Linked DNA regions of Homo sapiens. The protein of the gene in region 1 purifies or fractionates together with the protein of each later gene. This does not show direct contact. Each region holds a gene or a part of one and is shown on either strand. Other genes may lie near its edges.

What was found. Proteins that work in one complex are often made in the same cells at the same time.
Region 2: the proteins of SNRPB2 (region 1) and SNRNP70 purify together in Homo sapiens (affinity purification with mass spectrometry; 6 studies listed by BioGRID and IntAct, with this or other methods). This does not show direct contact.

What each region holds. Positions count from the first base shown.
Region 1 is NC_000020.11:16,725,546-16,733,033, reverse strand, and holds the start of SNRPB2 (U2 small nuclear ribonucleoprotein B''), read right to left. Parts: upstream 3,009-7,488; 5' UTR 2,870-3,008; intron 1,367-2,869; 5' UTR 1,332-1,366; coding exon 1,268-1,331; intron 871-1,267; coding exon 698-870; intron 1-697. UniProt on the Homo sapiens protein: Involved in pre-mRNA splicing as component of the spliceosome. Associated with sn-RNP U2, where it contributes to the binding of stem loop IV of U2 snRNA.
Region 2 is NC_000019.10:49,081,631-49,088,450, reverse strand, and holds the start of SNRNP70 (U1 small nuclear ribonucleoprotein 70 kDa), read right to left. Parts: upstream 3,001-6,820; 5' UTR 2,815-3,000; intron 2,047-2,814; 5' UTR 2,037-2,046; coding exon 1,890-2,036; intron 1-1,889. UniProt on the Homo sapiens protein: Component of the spliceosomal U1 snRNP, which is essential for recognition of the pre-mRNA 5' splice-site and the subsequent assembly of the spliceosome. SNRNP70 binds to the loop I region of U1-snRNA.

The DNA of each region.
Region 1 (7,488 bases):
ATGGTGTATTCACTCATACATAGAAACCCCTTGCTTCACACTCTGTGGTCACCCTTATCTGATCCTCTACCATCTCTGACTTACATCAAGGGCCTCCTAATTGAGTTTCCCACTTCCTTTCTGTCCCTCCCACAATGCGACCTTCATCCAGCAGCTAGATGTGAATCTCATTATGTCATTCCTGAGTTTAAAACTCTCCATTCATAACCATTTCATTTCCATTGTTATTCCTAAAACCTATGAGTTTAAACCTATCATTTTTCCTTAGATCACTGTTTCATCTAGACTGTGCAGCTTCTGACACATAGTATTTCACTACGACATATTCTAAAACTTCAGACTGAATTTCCTCTTTGACTCATGACTTTTGTTTCGTAATGTTTTACAAGTTTACAAACAGGTTTCTTTTCAAGTCTTCCAGGATATTATTAATTTCTAACTTTTTGAGATAAGACTATTGCCTAGACTGCCATTATTTTTTAAAATATTCTACATCTCAATGTATTTTGTTTTTGCCCATCTGAACTGTCATAAATTAAACTCTACCACTACTGTTTTTCTATAAAAATACATAAACCCAAACACACATAATTAAAAGCAGAAAGCAATAGCCACAGTTTCAAGCATATTTACAAATCTACTGTCCCATCAATATCATTAATTTCTTGATTAAAGTGAAATAATGGAATTGGCTTACCATTGGTTTACCATAAAATGGAAATCCTTGTAGCTGTCTCAAGGCATTTGTGGATGAGCCCAGTTCCTTAAATATGACAAAGGCCTGCCCCCTCATCTTCATGGTCTTTAAAGCCACAATGTCCACCACATGACCAAACTGAGAAAACAGGGCATATAGGGATCTCTTCAATTCTGTCCAAATTAGAAAAGAAACAAGTTATTGGTAATAAAGTAATGACAAAAGTCTTCATAAAATGATACTGCATTGAGTTGCCCCCCCCACCATTCACTTATTTATACAGTTATATATTTTAATATTTATAAAAACATATACTATTCCCATTGGCTATATGTAATTTTAAAAGTTATATGAAACCATTATATCTATGAGTAGAAACAGACTGTACACACTGTCAGTTCCTACCTATTTTTGTTTTTTAAAAGCCTTCAAATCCCTATAGGAAATGGGATAAACCATTATTTCAGGCACTAAGATGATGAGGTAAGAGGTTTTGAGGCAGTACAATTTTTAAGACAGTAGTAAATAAACACATTTTAGTAGTGAACAAGTATTCTAAAAAGCACTTACCTTCCTTTTTAATTTTGTCATTCATATTGTTGATATAAATTGTATGATTTGGTCTGATATCCATGTTTGTGTTAAATTCTTCAGGAGACAGTAAAAAATCTGTTATAAAAAGGAAGGAGTAAATTATACTGGACTGTGGCATAAGGACACAACACAAGAATTATTAACTTTTCATTTCTCTTTCAATCCCAGTTGTCAGAAAATGTCAGTTTGGCTGTAGCCTTTATTGTATCTCCAGCACCTACTAGCCCTCCTTTTCATACAGAAGAAGAACAGTTTCTCACATTCAAAACTTGGAGCACCAATACCTAGCCAGATTTTAGTAACACCATTTAATTCAACACATTTATTTTTACACTTACGTTTCACTTATGACACGTGACATTTTCTTTCCACCTCCTCAATGAAATAATTTTAAAATGTAGATTTGAAGAAAAATGACCAAAGTAGCAAATGTACATCCAGTAAAAATCATAAGGTTAGACATTAATGAAGTTTGCCAACTACTTAATGGGTGCACTTACAAAGTCCTTCCATACCTATTAATTTGTATACAGCATCACCAAGCTGTCTGGACTCCAAGGTTATCTCTAACCGACTTGAAAGAAAGGAGCTCAATGACAGCAGTGTGGCATGACGATTAAACTCAGATTCCAGTATCAGCCAGATGTGAATTCAAATCCTATTTATGCTTCTTACTAGCTGTTTGCCTGAGGGAAGTTCCTTAACCTCTCAGGTCCTCATCAGTAAAATAAGAATGGTAACAGAACCTACCCAATAGAACTCAGAAGACTAAATGAATTCTAGCACAGTTCTGCATCAGCGGTAAACACTTAAGAGTAGCTATTATTAACAGCTATTACCAGGTAAGGAACTTGCCTAAGGTCACACAGCTAATAAGCATCAGGCCTGGAAATTCAGCCCTTGCTTTCTCCTCTACACTTGTCTTCCTCATATACCACACTATTGCATTTTTTACATGGTTTTTACTTGCAAATTGTGAACTTGGATGATTTCCTTGTGTGCCCCACATATTCCTTTATCTCACAGTATTTACAGAGCATCCACTGTATGTGAACTGCATTGGATGATTGACAAGGGAAGAGCCTACAAGCAGGGGCTGCACTTGTGCAGGTAACAGGTAAAACGTAACGCTTCTCAAAGCCTTGCGACCCCCTAAATCGAAATCTGGAGAAGGGGCAGGGGTCGCAAAGGAGACGACGAAAGGGAAGTGACTGAGGCAGAGGTCAAAGTGAAGGTAGGGGGACAAAGGGGAGGCTCTTGCAGGGTTTCATGCGAGGTTTGATCGTGGGCTGCGTTGTTACAGGGACACCCTGAATTACCCGCCACCACCAAAAGGGAGCCGCTGGAAGACACCTGAAAGCGCAGTGAACTGTCCACGCCTCGCACGAGCAGACTGACATTAACTATCCTTTACTTCGTACGCGCAAGCCTCCCGCCTCTCCAGACACAAGCACCTTCGCCCAAGGCCCCCTAACGAAGTCCAAGGGAGCTGCCACGCGATGCCCGGCCCCAGAGTCAGTCTCCTCACCCCCAAGCCTGCCCCTCCGAGATCCAAACCCGGGCCAAACGCGTACCCACCCCAGCTTCGCGCTTCGTCCGCTCCCAGCTGCAACAGGGGAGAAAAGGGCCGAGGAGCCAGGAAAACCGAAACAGCGAGGTAGAAGGCGCACGAACCCACCTAAGGCCTACGCCGACTACTGTAAGAACCAAAAGCAGGAAACGGAGCCAGGCACCGGAAGCAACGTAGCCACGCTCCTCAATCGAGCGCCGACAAGTCTAGAAGCCGAGCACAGAGCCGATCGATGCTTCCGGGTCTCTGGCAGCCAGGGCTGGCAATCTCTCTGCGCGTGCGTCTGCCCTGCGGGCAGGAGAAGAGTCCGGAAATGGAAATGGGGAAAGAGAAGGGGGTTGTGAGGACCATGCTGCGAGGGAATAGTGAAGGGGAGTGAATCATTTCCCCTACCACGACCTTGCGAAGCTTTACCCGGCGCAACAGTGCCTTCCACCTTTACAAATCCTATGTAATTTTACAGGCGCTGCCCCTCATGCTATGGGGCAGTTAGTCCTGGTTTCGCCCTTCTTTGGGCTCTAGCTACCCCGGTTTAAAATCACCTTTAGGATAGCCAGTTCCTCCTGCCTCCGAGTCTCCTCTGATTCATGGGGCTCTGCAGGAACTGTCCTCCAACACTGTGCTGATGAACTTGAATCTCAGAGGCTACTCAGTTTGAGGGCCCAGGGCAGACAGAACTGGTGTCTGCCCAATTCTCATCTCTCACCAGATAAGGCAACCATGCTGACTAGAACCCAGTCATCTGTAAGATCATCTGCCTCAATTCACTCGAAAAAATAATTCCCTACCACCCTTCCCACTCTTTTCTTCCAACAAAAGGTCTAGATTTTTCTAGGGTATTCTAAGGAGTTAGTATTTATGCCAAGCTGAATGGGAGTTCCCAAAGTGCATGCATTCATTCATCCATCCATTCATCAGATGTCTGTAAAGCATCACCTGGAATATGAAATGGTTGTTAAGAGTCAACTGGAACCTAATCTTGTACCCTCTGCTTAACTAATCTCTCTGACCTTCACTTTTTTCATCTGTAAAATAGGGATCCTAATAGTACCTCCTTCTAGTTGTTGTAAGCATTAAATGAGCTAAAATAAATGTAAAGTGATTGGCACATTGTCAGACACAATAAATGCTCAAAAATGTTATTTCTGAATTCTGGCTATAACTTGGTTCTACTGGTGAGGCAGGTAGCTGTCAAATAAGTTGGTTTTATCAGCTGGGAATTTTTATTTTTTAAAAACACCCAAAGTTGCAACAACTTGAAAATAATATAAGCTTTTTAAGGGTGGGGTTTTTGTCTGCTCTGTTCACTCAAGTACCCTTAGTAATGGGAAAAGTGACTGATAATTAATATGCATTGGATAATTCAATGAATGACATGGAAAACTAGGCAACAGTAAAACAAATATGCTTTGAACATGCACCTGAGTGTAGAGAATGTTAAGGGATCACAGAAAAGCATCGTTTTATTATATAGATCTAAAACTAGAAGAAATGGCTGAGTGTAGTAGCTCACACCTGTAATCCTAGCATTTGGGGAGGCTGAGACAGGAGGACTGGTTGAGTCCAGGAGTTCAAAATCATCCTGGGCAACATAGTGAGATCTCATCTCTAAAATAAATAAACCAATGAGAAGAAATGTCCTATCTCAGTCAAAGAATTATATCTTTAACAAATTAAAAGAGAATATAAACTTAATATAAACAATTTCTAAATAACAAAGGACAAGCTGTTTTGCATATTACTATGAGCATCTCAGCAATTAGTTCTGTTTGATAATAATGAGGATGGCTACACTACTGAGAATAAACTATACTCTGTATTGTATAAGGGGATCTAGCCAAGAGTTGATAACTGTTAAAAGAGAATAAGATGTGATTATACAAAAACACTCCAACCTGGGAAGAAAATACCACAAGAAACACAGAGGCCTGAAGACAGACTGCATGTTGTGTTCTATTAACAATTAAATTACAGCTATTGTACATTACACTGTGAGAAGGAAATCATCCATTGCCAACTCAGCCGCAATGGTCTGCATGCACTTTTCCAGGTTCTTCTAAAAAGAGCCAGTGCATTTTCCTGTCCTTGGGCAGTCACTCTGGGCATTCCAATAACCCGTTAATGATTCTCAGTGGTTTCCTGAACGATTTGAGAAGCCAGTTATTGAGAACAGTACAGGAAGGGAATGATAAGGATCGAATAGCTTTTCTGGTTTTGTGAGAAACCTTGCATAGCCTGGCTATGTAACTATATTAAGAATATTATAGCAGCTAAACTATGGTCACATGTACTGTAAAACATCATCACTTTATAACCAGATCCACTTCTTGAGGGTGAGATCAGGAATCAGATGTCCAAAACTCACATTTTTAAAAACTAGAAGAGCAAATGAGTTTTGTTAGTTCTGCTCAGTCTGTTCTTTCACATTTGGGTTAGGTATCGTGATTTATTTTCCTGTGAAACAGGCTTTTTTTAATCGAGAGAAACAAGGAGGCAGCGTTATAACCACCCTATCCAAGTGTCATGTATTTGCAGATGATAAAACTTGCTTATTTTGGGAGTAGCAGAAAAATTACTACAAACAGTAGGGAATAAAACTGTGCCAAGATGTCTAAATTATAAGGAAGATAACTGAGGTGTCTCTTAGTGACTCTGAATACACATACATTTCCCTACCTTATCTGCACGTGTTTTATGTTTCTCATTAATTGTTTTTGGTATCTTGCTGCAGTAGTTTTAAGAAGGAGCCATGTATAAAGGAAAATGCACCATAAAACTGGTGGATAAATTTTGTCTTATTTATGTTACATAGAGTCACAAAATGTATGGCAATTCGTTTGTATCTTCTTTCTCTCCCCAGGTGGTGATTACATTAAGAAATGTATCTAGAGTGAAATTATTTTCACAACAAGCATTAAACAAATCTAGGCGTTATTGTTGAGCACCAAATCAGGTTTATGTTTTCCAGGGAGGTTGGGATAATGTTGACTGAAACTTCCTAAAAAGCACCACTCTCCCACCCCCAATTCAGGGAGGAAATAATTTTGTGCAATTTTCTTTCATTTTACTTAATTCTTACATTTCATTCTTTGTGGATACATTCTTGCTTTTAGGAATGAAAGAAACCCAAATATGACTATTGCCTCTGATGTTCACTACTGTATTAATGTTAAGAATAGTGTGTCTTTCACATGCAGCAAAATACCCTCTCCCCAGAATGGGTGATGTCTCAGATAGGCTATGAGAATGTGCACATTCCATAAAGTTTGGAAATGGTAGTTTTTCTTTGAGGACCTGATCATTAATCCAAAGAAGTGTGGGGAAAACCTGAACTTTTTTGGTGAACTTTTTGTGAGACATGTAGGTTGTGCTCAGTATTGTATCACCTGCCCTTCCCTAAAGGAGCTAAAGTAGCATCATACAACTGTCGTTCTCTTTGAGACTAGAAAATTAAGATTTCAGTCCCATGAGATGCTCCCATGAAATAAAATATTATGCACACACAACTTTTAAATATAATGGGTTTTGCTTCCCCTATGATTAATCCCTGTAATTTTTTTTGAGTCTTAAGCCTTAGGACAGTTTGAAAACACAAAATTTAAAAAGAACAGCTTTAAAAAAAAAAAAAGACTGTCAGGCCCTGATTGTGTAATTTCAAAAGTGATATATTGTTGATTTCTTGGGCATTCCCCAGATATCTTAATCCAGTGCTGAGAAGCTGCATTTGTAGCAAACTCCCGGATGATGCTGATGCTGCTGGTCCCATACCGCATTTTGGGTAGCAAGAACCTAAGCATTTCTTTTTTAAGAATGGTTGGGGTCGGGCGCGGTGGCTCAGTTTGTAATCTCAGCACTTTGAGAGGCCGAGGCAGGCGGATCACAAGGTTATGAGTTCGAGACCAGCCTGGCCAACACAGTGAAACCCTGTCTCTACTATAAATACAAAATTAGCTGGGCGTGGTGGCAGGCGCCTGTAATCCCAGCTATTCTGGAGGCTGAGGCAGGAGAATCGCTTGAACTCAGGAGGTGGAGGTTGCAGTGAGCCAAGATCATGCCACTGCACTCCAGCCTGGACAACAGAGTCAGATTCTGTCTCAAAAAAAAAAAAAAAGAAGAAAAAAAAGAATGGTTGGTAGGCCAGGCATGGTGGCTCATGCCTGTAGTCCTAGAGCTTTGGGAGGCTGAGGTGGGTGGATCACTTGAGGTCAGGAGCTTGAGACCAGCCTGACCAACATTGTGAAACCCCATCTCTATTAAAAAAATAAAAAATTAAAAAAAATATATATATACACACACAAAAATTAGTCTGGTGCCATAGTGCATGCCTGTAGTCCCAGCTACTTCAGAGGCTGAGGTGGGAAGGTGGGAGAATTGCTTGAACCTGTGAGGTGGAGGTTGCAGTGAGCTGAGATCACACCACTGCACTCCAGCCTGAGTAACAGAGCAAGACCTCATCTCAAAAAAAAAAAAAAGAAAGAAAAGAAAAAAGAAAAAAATGGTTGGTAGATTATTCTAGTATCAAACTGTAGTTATCTCTAGAGCCATAGAGATACTACCAGATACAGAATACTATCTTCCTTTTGAAACACAAATCAACTATTTCTTTCAAAGGAGCTCGTATTTATTT
Region 2 (6,820 bases), on another chromosome or scaffold:
AAAGTGGGCAGATCACAAGGTCAGGAGATCAAGACCATCCTGGCTAACACGGTGAAACCCCATCTCTAAAAATACAAAAAATTAGCCAGGCGTGGTGGCGGGCACCTGTAGTCCCAGCTACTCGGGAGGCTGAGGCAGGAGAATGGCATGAACCCGGGAGGCGGAGCTTGCAGTGAGCCGAGATCACGCCACTGCACTCCAGCCTAGGCAACAGAGCGAGACTCCAAGTCAAAAAAAAAAAAAAAAAAAAAGTACCTGGCTCCCAGGCATGGTGGCTCACACCTGTAATCCCAGCACTCTGGGAGGCCAAGGGGGGTGGATCACCTGAGGTTAGGGGTTCGAAACCAGCCTGGCCTACATGGTGAAACCCCATCTCTACTAAAAATACAAAATTAGCCAGGCGTGGTGGTGCATGCCTGTAATCCCAGCTACTTGAGAGGCTGAGGCAGGAGAACTGCTTGAACCGGAGGCTGCAGTTGGCTAAAATCACGCCACTGCACTCCAGCCTGGGCAACAGAGCAAAACTGTCTCATAAATAAATAAATGGTAACTGGCACATGACCTGCATCATCAAAGGGCACCTACCACCCGCCTGTGCCCATTAAGTTAATTGGCCAGTAATATCTCTCAAGTGCGGGTTCACCAAGGGTGGCAAATCCCACTGAAGACATACCTTTCTGTTATCTACGAAATTCTGCTCTGCAACTCCCTCGCCTCCAGCTGCCCTTACCTACCCAATGCTAGAACGTTCTTCTTGTAACTTCCGACTGTGTGCCAGCTTTTCTCAGGTGTGCTCTGATGCACCTAAGAGATGACCCTTGTCATCCCATTTCACAAATAAAAACACAGAGGTCCAGGAGCCTAAGTCATTCATTCCTATTTATCCCAAAGGTGCAGAGCTAAGATCCCCATCTGCAGTTTTAAGCCCTCCAATACTCAATACTGGGTGCTAAGCCTTTATGAACATCATCTTATTAACAATAAAAGTAGTAAACAGAGTAACAAAGGCTGACATGTGCTGACTGCTTGGTGCCAAGCCCCCTGACATACAGTTTGCCATTTAATTCTCCACCAACATTATAAGGGTGCTACCACTATCCCCTTGCTAAAGATAAAGAAACCAATGCATTAAGAGGATACAACATTTGCCCAAAGTCAGAGCTGATAAATGGTGTGGGTTAGGCATGAATCCTCAACCACTACTCACTGAATTTTCACAAAAATTCTACAAAAGGTGTACTATCAACCCCACTTTTTTTTTTTTTTTTTTTTTGAGACAGTCTTGTTCTGTTGCTCAGGATGGAGTGCAGTGGCGCGATCTCGGCTCATTGCAACCTCCGCCTCCTGGGTTCAAGTGATTCCCGTGCCTCAGCCTCCCAAGTAGCTGGAATTACAGGCACCATGTCCGGCTAATTTTTGTTATTTTTAGCAGAGACGTGGTTTCACCATGTTGGCCAGGCTGGTCTTCAACTCCTCACCTCAAGTGATCCGCCTGCCTCGGTCTCCCAAAGTACTGGGATTACAGGCGTGAGCCACCGTACCGGGCCACAACCCCACTTAAAAAAAAAATTTTTTTTTTGAGAGACGAAGTCCTGCTCTGTCACCCAGGCCGGAGTATAGTGGCACAATCACAAAGCACTCCAGCCTCCGACTCCTGGGCTCAAGCAATCCTCCCACCTCAGCCTCCTGAGTAGCTGAGACTACAGACGCACTCGACCACACCCGACACCCGGCTCCAACCCCATTTAAAACAGAGAAACTGAGGATCACAAAGGTTAAGCCCCTCGCTTAAATCACGCAGCTGGCAAAATGGCCAGAAGCTGGACTCGCAAATCCAACCCGTTGCTCCCCAGAACCCAAACCATTCCTGGCCTGCTCAGTGAACTCACCTCAAACTCTCGAATGTACGGCGCAATGCCACAATAAGGTTGATTGTGGTGTTTTTCATGTGGCAGTTTCTCCAGGGGTGGCAGGTATGGAATAGGGTCACGGGGGGCAAAGAGGGCCAGAAGGTTGGGCGGCAGGAACTGGGTCATCTTGCCAAGTCTGAGAGCAGAAGCAGGACAGCCTTAGGTTAGATCGGGTCTGCACAGAGAAAGCCCCTGTTACTCCTTGACTCTCAAAATAAGAAAGACAGGAGAAAAGTCTCGGAATTAAAACAGGCTCTGTAAGGGCAGAGAACAGTCCTGTGTTGCGGAGAAAAGGGTACGTCTTGGTGGGGGTGGAGGTGAAAGGCCGGTAAAGAAAACAAAAATAACGGCTGGAAAAGGGTTCCTGAAGAGTGAAGTCTCAGAGTCCTCTGACACGAGCTGTGGGGCGGAGAGGTTCCCTGGGAATTTCTGGGGAAATCAAGGACCCGAGGAGGGAGGCCCAGAGCAGCTGTGGCTGCTCGTCCCGTGCCGTGGAGGGCAAATTACGAGATGCAGTTTGCAGGGTCCTGGGGATCGGAAGTTTCCAAGCAAAGAAAGAGAAACATAAGGAGCGAAGCCCCAAAACCAAGTGCTTGTGGGTAACAGACCTGGACCCCGCAAAAAGCGAAAGGAATTATGGGTAAGGGTCCAGGACAACATAGACAAACGAAAAAGAAAAAAGGCCACACACCGCAAGGGCCTGTGGGTAGGGAACCACGAGGGCGCTGTGGGAAGCGGGCGTGGGTGCCCAGAGATTTCGGGGTCCGGGAAAGGGATGCAGAAGGGACCTGTGGCGGGGACGCGGGAAAGGGGCCTGGCCGCGGGGAAGAGGACCGGGCCCACCGCTGGGGCTTCTGGGTAGCGGCCCCGCACCCCGTCGGGCCACTCAGTCACACTCACTCACCGCGTAGCGCCCTCCTCGCTCTGGCGTCTGTCCGGAGGCTCGCGGCGGCTGCGGCAGCCCCTCAGCAACAACAACTCCTGCTTCGGCTTCCACTCCGGGGGCGTCCACGTCCGTCTGATTCCGTCGCCCGCTAAGCGAGCGCACCAGGCCGCTGCTCAGCCACCCGCGCGGCCTCCGATAGCGACTGGAGCAGGGGGTGGGTCCCGGCCGCAAATCCCTCCGCCGTCCTCACTGCGCACGCGCCGTGCGGTGCCAACAACAACCCACACACTAGGACCCGGCGCTGCCGCGGGCACAGCGCACGCGCGAGGTCACTACCCCGCCTTTGGGCACCTTGAGTACCTCAGCCGCGGGGGGCTGGCTTCTGCACTGCGCGCGCGCGCTTGCCCCAAGCCGCCCCTCCACCTCCCGCTTTCCGCGCCGAACCGCCTATGTCCGCGAGACTCTCCCTGATGCTCCGCCCCTTTCCGATCACACTTCCCGGATCTTTCGCGCATGCGTTTTGCGTAGAGAACTGTAACGTACCTCTCCGCCGCCTAGCAAAGAGTCCCTAGGTGAACAGCCTGATTGCGTTGATGTCTAATCTATTCAATCAATAACTATTCATCGAGCATCTCGTGTGTGCTAGGCACTGTCTGGGCTTTGGGGGTACAGCACGTGATTAAAGCAAAGTCTTCTGCTGCTAGGGCTTACATTGTACTGGGAGAGACAATAAAAGCATTTAACTGAATAAAGATAATTTGAGGCCAGGCGCGGTGGATCACGCCTGTAATCCCAGAACTTTTGGGAGGCTGAGGCGGGCAGATCACCTGAGGTCAGGAGTGTGAGACCAACCTGACCAACATGGTGAAAGCCCGTCTCTACTAAAAATACAAAAATTAGCCGGGCGTGGCCGTGCGCGCCTGTAAGCCCGGTTACTCTGGAGGCTGAGGCGGGAGAATCGCTTGAACTCGGGAGGCGGAGGTTGCAGTGAGCCGAGGTCGTGCCATTGCACTCCAGCCTGGGCGACAGAGCGACTCCGTCTCAAAAGTAAATAAATAAATAAATAATAAAAGATAATTTGAGATAGTGGCCAGCATAATGAAGAACGATGGAGCAGAATAAAGGGATGGGAAGTGAGAGCGAGGCTGTTTTAGAAAGGGTGATAATGGAAGGCCCCTCTGAAGAGGTAACATTTGAATAAAGGACAGATAGAAGCGAGATCTGGGGTGGGGCCGGGGGGGCGGTGTTTAACAGTAAGTGCAAAGGTCCTGAACTGAGACCAGATGGCAGGAATCTCAGGTTGTTGGCCATGAGATCAGAGAGCTGGCACTTGTTATTTAGAGCCCTGTTCTTAAGTATTGTATCTTAAGTTTTGTGGATGGATTCAATAGCCTGTTTAATAACTACAGAAATTATTGCAAATTAAAATGACTAATTTTATGTTTCAAGAAAAAGGCCGAGTGCAGTGCTCACGCCTGTAATCCCAGCACTTTGGGAGGCCAAGGCGGGCAGATCACCTGAGGTCAATAGTTCGAGACCAGACTGATCAACATGGAGAAACCCCGTCTCTACTAAAAATACAAAATTAGCTGGGCATGGTGGCACATGCCTATAATCCCAGCTACTTGAGAGGCTGAGGCAGGAGAATCACTTGAACCTGGGAGGCAGAGGTTGTGGTGAGCCAAGATGGCACCATTGCACTCCAGCCTGGGAGACAAGAGCAAAACTCCGTCTCAAATAAAAAAAAGAAGTGGGAGGATCGTTTGAGCCGAGAAAGTTGAGGCTGCAGTGAGCCAAGATTGTGCCACTAGACTCCAGCCTGGGCGACAGAGCGAGACTCCGTCTCAAAAAAAAAAAAAAAAAAAGAAAGAAAAGGGCTGGGTGTGGTGGCTCACACCTGTAATCCCAGCACTTTGGGAGGCCGAGGTGGGCGGATCACCTGAGGTCAGGAGTTCGAGACCAGCCTGGCCAACATGGTGAAATCCCATCTCTACTAAAAATACAAAAATTAGCTGGGAGTGGTGGCACGCACCTGTAATTCCAGCTACCTGGGAAGCTGAGGCAGGAGAATTGCTTGAACCCGGGAGGCAGAGATTGCACGACTGCACTCCAGCCTGGGCAACAGAGTGAGAATCTGTCTCAAAAAAACAAATAAAATAGGCCGGGTGTGGTGGCTCACACCTGTAATCCCAGCACTTTGGGAGGCCAAGGTAGGAGGATCCCTGAGATCAGGAGTTCAAGACCAGCCTGGGCAACATGGCGAAACCCCTTCTCTACTAAAAATACAAAAATTAGCTGGACATGGTGGCATGCACCTGTAATCCCAGCTACTTTGAAGGCTAAGGCAGGAGAATCGCTTGAATCTGGGAGGTGGAGGTTGCAGTGAGCTGAGACTGTGCAACTGCACTCCAGCCTGGACAGAGCAAGACTCTATCTCAAAAAATAATAATGATGGCTGGGCACGGTGGCTCACACCTGTAATCCTGGCACTTTGGGAGGCTGAGGCAGGCAGATCATGAGGTCAAGAGATCGAGACCATCCTGGCCAACATGGTGAAACCCTGTCTCTACTAAAAATACAAAAATTAGCTGGGTATGGTGGCACGTGCCTGTTGTCCCAGCTACTTGGGAGGCTGAGGCAGGAGAATTGCTTGAACCCAGGAAGCAGAGGTTGCGGTGAGCCAGGATCGTGCCACTATACTCCAGCGTGGCAACAGAGCGAGACTTTGTCTCAAAACAACAACAATAAAAATAAAATAATAATAATAATAAAATAAAAGGGAGAAATCTGCCAAAGGAAAGGGACAATAGGCTTAACAGAAGTCTGAAACACAGCAGAGAAGACATTAAACTTTAAAGCTCTAGCCTGGCACAGTGGCTCACACCTGTCATCTCAGCACTTTGGGAGGCCGAGGTGGATGGATCACGAGGTCAGGAGTTCAAGACCAGCCTGGCCAAGATGGTGAAACCTCATCTCTACTAAAAATACAAAAATTAGCCAGGTGTGGTGGCAGGTGCCTGTAATCCCAGCTACTCAGGAGGCTGAGACAGAAGAATTGCTTGAACTCGGGAGGCGAAGGTTGTCGTGAGCCAAGATTGCACCACTACACTCCAGCCTGAGCAACAGAGAAAGACTCTGTCTCAAAACAAAAACAAAAACAAAAAAAAACTTTAAAGCTCCAAAATAATCCCTGATTCCATGTTCTGCATCCAAGGCACACTGGTGCAAGGAGTGGGCTCCCAAAGTCTTGGGCAGCAAAGTCCAGCCCCAATGTCTCCTCACACAGGTTGGAGTTTAGTGCCTGCAGCTGTTGTAGGCTCAGGGTGCAATCTGCTGGCAGACCTGTCACTCTGGGATCTAGAGAGGAGGGGTCCCCTTCTCACAGCTCCACTAGGCAGCGCCCTGGTGGGGACTCTATGTTAGGCCTCCAACCCCACCTTTCCCCCTTGGCACTGTCCTAGTAGAGGCTCTCTGTAGGGACTCCAACCATGCAGCCGACTTCTGCCTGGACACCCAGGCTTTCCTACACATCCTCTGAAATCCAGGTGGGAGCTGCTAAGCTTCCTTCACTCTTGCATTCTGTGCACCTGCAGGCTTAATCCCACATGAAAGCTGCCAAAGTTTATGGCTTGCACCCTCTGGAGTGGTGGCCCAAGCTGTACTTGGGACCCTGTGTGTCATGGCTGGTGATCGAACAGCAGGGATGCAGGGGAGCAGTGTCCCCAGGCTGAGCAGGAGACAGGGCCCTGGATCTGGCCCAGTAAACCACTCTTTCCTTATATGCCTCAGAGCCTGTGATGGGGGAGGCTGTTTTGAAGACTCCTGAAATGCCTTCAAGGCCTTTTTCCCATTGTCTTGGATGTTAGCACTTGGCTTCCTTTTAGTCACGCAACCTCTCCAGCAAGGCAATACAGCCTGCTTCTATTTCTCTCCTAAAAAATGCTCTTCCCTTCTCTACCACATTGCCAGGTTGTGACTTTTCTAAACTTTTATGCTGTGCTTCCTATTTATTGATTGATTTTTC